Linked DNA regions of Homo sapiens. The protein of the gene in region 1 purifies or fractionates together with the protein of each later gene. This does not show direct contact. Each region holds a gene or a part of one and is shown on either strand. Other genes may lie near its edges.

The links. The genes of interacting proteins can lie anywhere in the genome.
Region 2: the proteins of SLC27A4 (region 1) and DDX20 purify together in Homo sapiens (affinity purification with mass spectrometry; one large-scale study listed by BioGRID and IntAct). This does not show direct contact.

Annotation. Positions count from the first base shown.
Region 1 is NC_000009.12:128,347,027-128,350,526, forward strand, and holds part of SLC27A4 (long-chain fatty acid transport protein 4), read left to right. Parts: intron 1-1,518; coding exon 1,519-1,677; intron 1,678-3,285; coding exon 3,286-3,355; intron 3,356-3,457; coding exon 3,458-3,500. UniProt on the Homo sapiens protein: Mediates the levels of long-chain fatty acids (LCFA) in the cell by facilitating their transport across cell membranes. Appears to be the principal fatty acid transporter in small intestinal enterocytes.
Region 2 is NC_000001.11:111,762,401-111,765,900, reverse strand, and holds part of DDX20 (probable ATP-dependent RNA helicase DDX20), read right to left. Parts: intron 3,225-3,500; coding exon 3,119-3,224; intron 2,996-3,118; coding exon 2,894-2,995; intron 165-2,893; coding exon 1-164.

The DNA of each region.
Region 1 (3,500 bases):
AGCACTAGCAACATGGCTGATGCTAGGTGGCCCCTCAGTACAATGGTAATCATCCTTGTGACTAATTAGGCCGTATCTAGCTCATCTGTAAAATGGGAACAAAATTAATTCCCCACTTTCCTCACAGAGCCTGCATTTTATTTGCTGCCACATTGGGCACCTGCAAAGTACTGAGGTTGCTGCTTTCCAAGAGCAGCTCTAATCTCTATAAAGACCGAGTGAGGTAGGGATCTTGGTTTTATGGATGATGAGCCTGGAGTTCAGAGGGGTTTGTGAGGAGCTCACCCAAGATCACACAGTTAGTAAGTGGTAGAACTGGGGTTTGATCTTCAGCTTGATCACAGCACTCTGTTTTTTCTCCCCACACTGTTGTGGTTGTGGGATAATGAATAGGGAAGTCATTAGGATGCTGAAAGGGGGCCTGGCATGGTGGCTCACGCCTGTAATCCCAGCACTTTTGGAGGCCAAGGAGGGCAGGTCACCTGAGCTCGAGAGTTAAAGACTAGACTGGCCAACATGGTGAAACCCTGTTTTTACTAAAAATACAAAAATTAGCCAGGTGTGGTGGCACACGCCTGTAATCTTGGCTACTCAGGAGGCTGAGGCACAAGAATCACTTGAACCAAGTGAGCCGAGATCATGCCACTGCACTCCAGCCTGGGCGACAGAGTGAAACTCTGTCTTAAAAAAAAAAAAAAAAAGATGCTGAAAGGGGGCCAGGCACAGTGGCTCATGCCTGTAATCCCAGCACTTTGGGAGGCCAAGGCAGGAGAATCTCTTGAGCCCAGGAGTTCAAGACCTGCCTGGACAATATAGTGAGACCCTGTCTGTCTCTATTTAAAAAAAGCAAAAGAAAAAAAAAAAAAAAGAAAGGAAAGAAAAAAATGGTGCTGAAAGGGGAGAGGGAAGAAGGCAGCCAGGGAAGAAGAGAGGGTTGGGCAAATCAAGAGGAAGCCAGGAAGGTGGGGCCAAGCCGACCAGCGCTGCTCCATGCCCGGGGGTGGGGGTTATGTGATGTCCGTGCAGTGCGCAGGGGAGCCTGAAAGCAGGTTCCCGCTCTCGGAAGGGGATGGAGGGCCACTGGCCTCTGACCCGCACTCCTCCCTTCTATCTGGTGCACCACAGAGTAAGTAGTGCGGGATAGTGGGGGGGAGCCCAGACCTTGATGTGAGGTAGAGCTGGCATTGCACGCCAGGTCCAGCACATTCTAGCTGTGAGCAGGTCCTCTCATTCTCGGAGCGTCAATCTTCTCATCTGTAAGAGGGGCTGTCAATGGTCCCTCCTTCCCAGGGCTGTGAGACCAGGGAATGCAGGTAAAGCGGACCTACTCTGTGGTTAGCCCATGGCTAATAGAACCATTGCCGGTGCCCCTGTCAACACTGAAGGCCCAGTTGCTTCACTGCCTCTCCTCCTGCCCAGCCAGTATCCTCAGCAACATGGCCAGCCCTGCTGGGAGCAGAGGTCCCTGGGAACATGGGGTTTTCTGGCCTGCCTGCTGACTGCCCTGTCTCCCCACAGCCATCTGTGAGGTCCATGCCAGCCTGGACCCCTCGCTCAGCCTCTTCTGCTCTGGCTCCTGGGAGCCCGGTGCGGTGCCTCCAAGCACAGAACACCTGGACCCTCTGCTGAAAGATGCTCCCAAGCACCTTCCCAGTTGCCCTGACAAGGGCTTCACAGGTGGGCTCCATCCCCTCCCCATAGAGGGGCTCTCACACAGGCCCTGGACAGAGCACTGGCCTCAGTGCCAGAAGGAGGCTTTTCTGGAAACTTGCCATGTGCCTGGAACATGTCACGTCACCTCCCTTTTTCCATCTGGAAAATGGTGACAGTAAACCTGGGCCACTCCAGGGTTACTGTGAAGGTGACATGAGCTGATGTGTATCAGTGCCAGATACAGGGCTGAGAACACAGGAGCTCACAAAGTCCAGTGTGATTTGTTGAACAAGCCTTCATTGATGCCTAATGGGCAGAATCCTGTGGACTCCGGGAACCTGCCTGGTCTGGGCTTTGGTTGGGGTTGGGTGGGAGGGTGGGTGAGGAGCAAGACCCTTTGTATATTCATCAAGTGCCTCTTCAGTGCAGGACACTTCAGGATCTCCAGCTGTGATCCTCTCCCAGCACTGTGCTGCCTCCCTGACCCCACCTCCAGGCAGCCTTCCTGAGCCTCTCACCCCTCTTCTTTTATACTGTAGCCTACCTGGTTCTTCTGCTCTTCTCATTCTCTTTCCTGTGAAGCCACATTGCCTGGTGGCTCAGAGCTTGGGCTGTCGAGTCAGATCCGAGTTTATATCCTGGTTCTACTGCTTCCTTTGTGTGAACCCTGACACCTGCCCTGCCCTTGGAGCCTCAGTTCCCACAGCCATAAAACTGGGGACAGTAGCAGAACCTACTCTATGGGGTATCTTTGAGGGTTGAAAAAAATACAGTGGGGCCAGTCCTGAAGCTAGGGTGTGGCAGGAGGGGCTCAGTAACTGGTCATTGTCATCAGCACTGTTTAACTTCTCTCTTGTATGTGAATCTGGTCTCTTGGGTGCATTTGTCAGCTGCTTGAGGGCAGGGACTCTGGCTGGTTGCTCTGGTGCCCTCATAGTGCCTAGGGCTGGCAAACAGCAGGCAGGCAGAGAGCATGAGGTGTCTCGGCAGGCATTCTAAACACGTGGAGTCTGCCTGTGGAGTTCCTGACCTCCAGGGAACCTCAAGTCTGGTAGGGCCGAGCCTCACATAGAAACTCTAACGTGGCAATCCCTGTCGAGGGCTGCAGAGTGGGACAGATCAATGCTCAGCAGTGCGGAAGCTACCTCAACACCCCACTTCCTGCAGCTAATGCCTCCCTGTGCTCTATGACTTGGGGCAGGTGTCACCTTTATCGTGAAGCCCACCTGGCACCACCTCCCCTCCTGCAAGCTTGGGCCAAATGTGGCTACTGGGTTTCAACAGGTCCTGTGCCCTCCCTCGGCACTTGTTGCTTAGTATTGGAATTGCCTGTGTCCTCATCTGACTGTTCCACTGAGCTGTGACTGCCAAGAGGGCCAGGCCCGTGCCCATCTTACTCACTGATGTCTCTCTCCACCAGGGCCTAGCACAGAGCAAGGGCCCAGGAAATATTTGTTGGAATGGATGCCGGTGTTAGAGCTGAATGGTATCTGAGGTTATCAGAACAGGCTTCCTAGCAAGGGTGTGATGGGAACAGGTGTTGAAGGGTGCACACCTGCAGGTGTCCATTTGTGTGACCCTTTGCCCAGCCCTGAGCTGCCCCCGACAGCCACTCGCGTCTGTTTTCTTTAGATAAACTGTTCTACATCTACACATCCGGCACCACAGGGCTGCCCAAGGCCGCCATCGTGGTGCACAGCAGGTAAGGGGCAGGTGCCCAGGGTGGGGTAGGCACAGGCAGGGCTGGGGAGCCTCCTTCTGCCTTTCTAGGGCCCGCTCAGCCCTTGGCCCTGTGCCTTCCCAGGTATTACCGCATGGCTGCCCTGGTGTACTATGGATTCCGCATG
Region 2 (3,500 bases), on another chromosome or scaffold:
GTGGTCACCATGAGCTTTCTGAATTTGAAGGGTTCTCTCTATTTTCTGAATTTGCTTTTTTAAGGGTTGGTTAGGTACACTTGCTATACCATATGTATGCACAGCAGCTTTAACTTCCACATCCCAATCCACACATTCTTCCATCAGACCAGAAGGAATGGGATCTACATAAAAAGGAAGAAAAATGTATTAAAATTCTCAAGCTACTCTAGACCACTGTTTTCTGAATGATTTCATAAAGTTTTCTATGATCAAATACATTTAAGAAACAATATGCAAATATACTAAGATGTTTAATAGATATAACATTTTTAAAGACTGAAGCAATCCTGTAATAAAGAAACCTGCCTAAGAAATATGTAAGACCCATCCCATACTCACAAGCACTATCTCCCCTCACTCTCACTAGAAAAAGAGCTTACTCTAGGAGTAATGTACAAGCCTGCAACAATTCTCCCATCTTTTCTCTCCTCCCTCTCCACAGCCCCTCCCCTTTATCTCAATACTTCTGACAGCAAAACAAGATATTAGAAAATGGATTGTGCTCCCCAAAGCTTATCAACTAGGAAATAATACAACTGCAACTCTGTACACCCAACTAAATCTGTCACCCAATATTCCAACAGGGAGAAATCACTGCCCTTAACAATAAAGAGAAAACCTCTATAGGGGAAAAAACTAGATGACTATGAAAAGATCTGTGACTATGAAAATCAGAAATGACATTTCTAATTTTTAAAAAATTTGCTGGCTTCAACCCTCTAAATTTTCTATTCCATCCAGGTGTGACAATTTGCTTCCCACACTCAGACCTTTCAAAGTGTGATCAATTTTTGTCTTAGGCAGACAAGATATATCAAGCCCCTGCTTTACAAAGATCTTGCCTGTTGTTGCTATTTATGCTCCATGTTATCTATAAATCCCACAGGTCTGGATACTTCAATGAAGTCTCTTGATCCTTTGCTGAACAGATTCTATGATTAAAACTCTCATTCCTACTCAGTTGATATCCCTTGCTTGCCTAGTCCTATAATACAGGCCAATTTCCCTCCTAGTTCTGCCCCAGGAAACTCATCTGAACATCTGTTGTTACACAAGTTCCCAGTCCAATACAGACCTAACAGCATGAATATCATTTTCTCATGATTTCAGGGCCCTATTAACATTACATAAAGATCCAAATATATCATTTTCCAGTATCCAAAGGCAATTTTTATCACTAGATGCTATGATATTGAATCCTACAAGAAGTCTTAACCCTCTTCTACCAATTTTCAATTTTTTTCCCATATCAGACTACGAATAGACTTATACACAGAAAGAACTGACAGTTTTAGAACTGACATAGAGCCTAAAGACCATTTACTCTAAAGTACTTTGCAAATCAGGACTCTAAGCTTACAGCAATTACAGAGATTTGTAAAAGATCATAAAATGAGTTATTACTAACCCGATCTACTAGAATACATAGAACTCCCAGATCTGTGCTTAATCTAGCTCTGTAAAATAATTAAATATAAAGTCGGTAAAATACTCAATTATATTTATTCAATAACTACATATCCTATATTCTGCAAAGTCATGTATATACTATATGTGTATTTTTCTTTTTTTTTTTTGAGACTGAGTCTCGCACTTTCGCCCAGGCTGGAGTGCAATGGCGGATCTTGGCTCACTGCAAGCTCCACCTCCCAGGTTCATGCCATTCTCCGGCCTCAGCCTTCCAAGTAGCTGGGACTACAGACACCCACCACCATGCCCGGCTAATTTTCTGTATTTTTTTTTAGTAGAGACAGGGTTTCACTGTGTTAGCCAGGATGGTCTTGATCTCCTGACCTCGTCATCCGCCCGCCTCAGCCTCCCAAAGTGCTGGCATTACAGGCGTGACCTATATGTGTATTTTTCTATATAGACATACATCTATATATGAATAGACACTATTTATAGTGCACATTTTCTGTATAACATGCACGTCAAAAATGCCATATTTCCACTCAAGGGTTTTTTAGAATTTTTTGTTTTTAAGAGATCATTACTAGTTTTAAACATGCGTTGTTTCCAAGAGGGCACTTAAAAAGAAGCAGAACAAATGACTGAACTGAAATCAAAAGAAAACATTTCACTCCAATTTTTCAAAATAGTATTCAAATTAAAGATGCTGTTCTTTCCACATGGTGACAAAGGAGAATATGGCAAGAATTACCTTCACAACAATTTAAGAGGTAAAATATCCCCCCTTGTATCAAAGAATAAAATCAAATTGCAAAGCCACTAACTAATAAAATAGAGCTAACATAGCTCTCATTTTTCTTTCTTTTTTTTTTTTTTGAGACGGAGTTTCACTCTTGTTGCCCAGGTTGGAGTGCAATGGCTTGATTTCAGCTCACTGCAACCTCCACCTCCTGGGTTCAAGCGATTCTCCTGCCTCAGCCTCCCAAGTAGTTGGGATTACAGGCACCTGCCACCACGCCCAGCTAATTTTTGTATTTTTAGTAGAGAAGAGGTTTCACCACATTGACCAGGCTCGTCTTGAACTCCTGACCTCATGTGATCCACCTGTCCTGGCCTCCCAAAGTGCTGGGATTACAGGCGTGAGCCACTGCGCCTAGCCAGCTCTCATTTTTCATGTGCCAGTGGTTAGCTTGCACTCCTCTCCGTGCTACTTACTAGCTGTAACACCTTTACTTACCCTCTCTATGTCTAAATATCCTCATCTACAAAACAATTGCACACACCTCATAGGAGTGTGGTGAGAAGTAAATGAGTTAACGTACATACAGGACTGGGAACAGTACCCAGCACATCATAAGCACTCTGTTAGCTATTATTATCATTTTTATTATGCTTATCACCACTATAATTATTTTGAAATAATGAAACAGATGAAATGTACCTGGTAAAGGGAGAAGGTTGATATTACATTTCTGGGCAATTCTCATCATCATATTTTCTTCCTCTCCCCGGCAACAGTAGGTCACTGTCAGCCCCAATGTACCTAAAAGCAGAGAGAATGTTAGGTAGTAAATCATTTTCACAAAAATAATATTCAAAGCCCACCTGTCACATTATAGATCCCTCCCCTTAAAGAAAGCACTCAAACTTTTTTTTTTTTTTTTACCAAAACGGCCAGCTCTCCCAATCCGATGCATGTATGTCTCCCAATCCAATGGTACATCCAGATTTACAACCAGATTCACCTTCTCAGCATCAATCCCACGAGAAGTCTTGAATTGAAGAAGATAGCAATTATTTGTTTGCATTAACTATACAGCATGGATACCAATGCATATTATATTCTTCCAGTACAGTCAAGAGACAAATTAAGAACTGAATACTGAGGAGCAGAGGAAAAGGAAATTCATTCCTAATGACTAATTTCAAGGACAAAGATAAACATATTAAAGACATTTTTAAGAAAGTATTTTCCTCAGCACTGGAAAGATAATTATCTTCTGGTATTCTTGTTAGATACGCCTACATAAAATAATATATGAAATCTG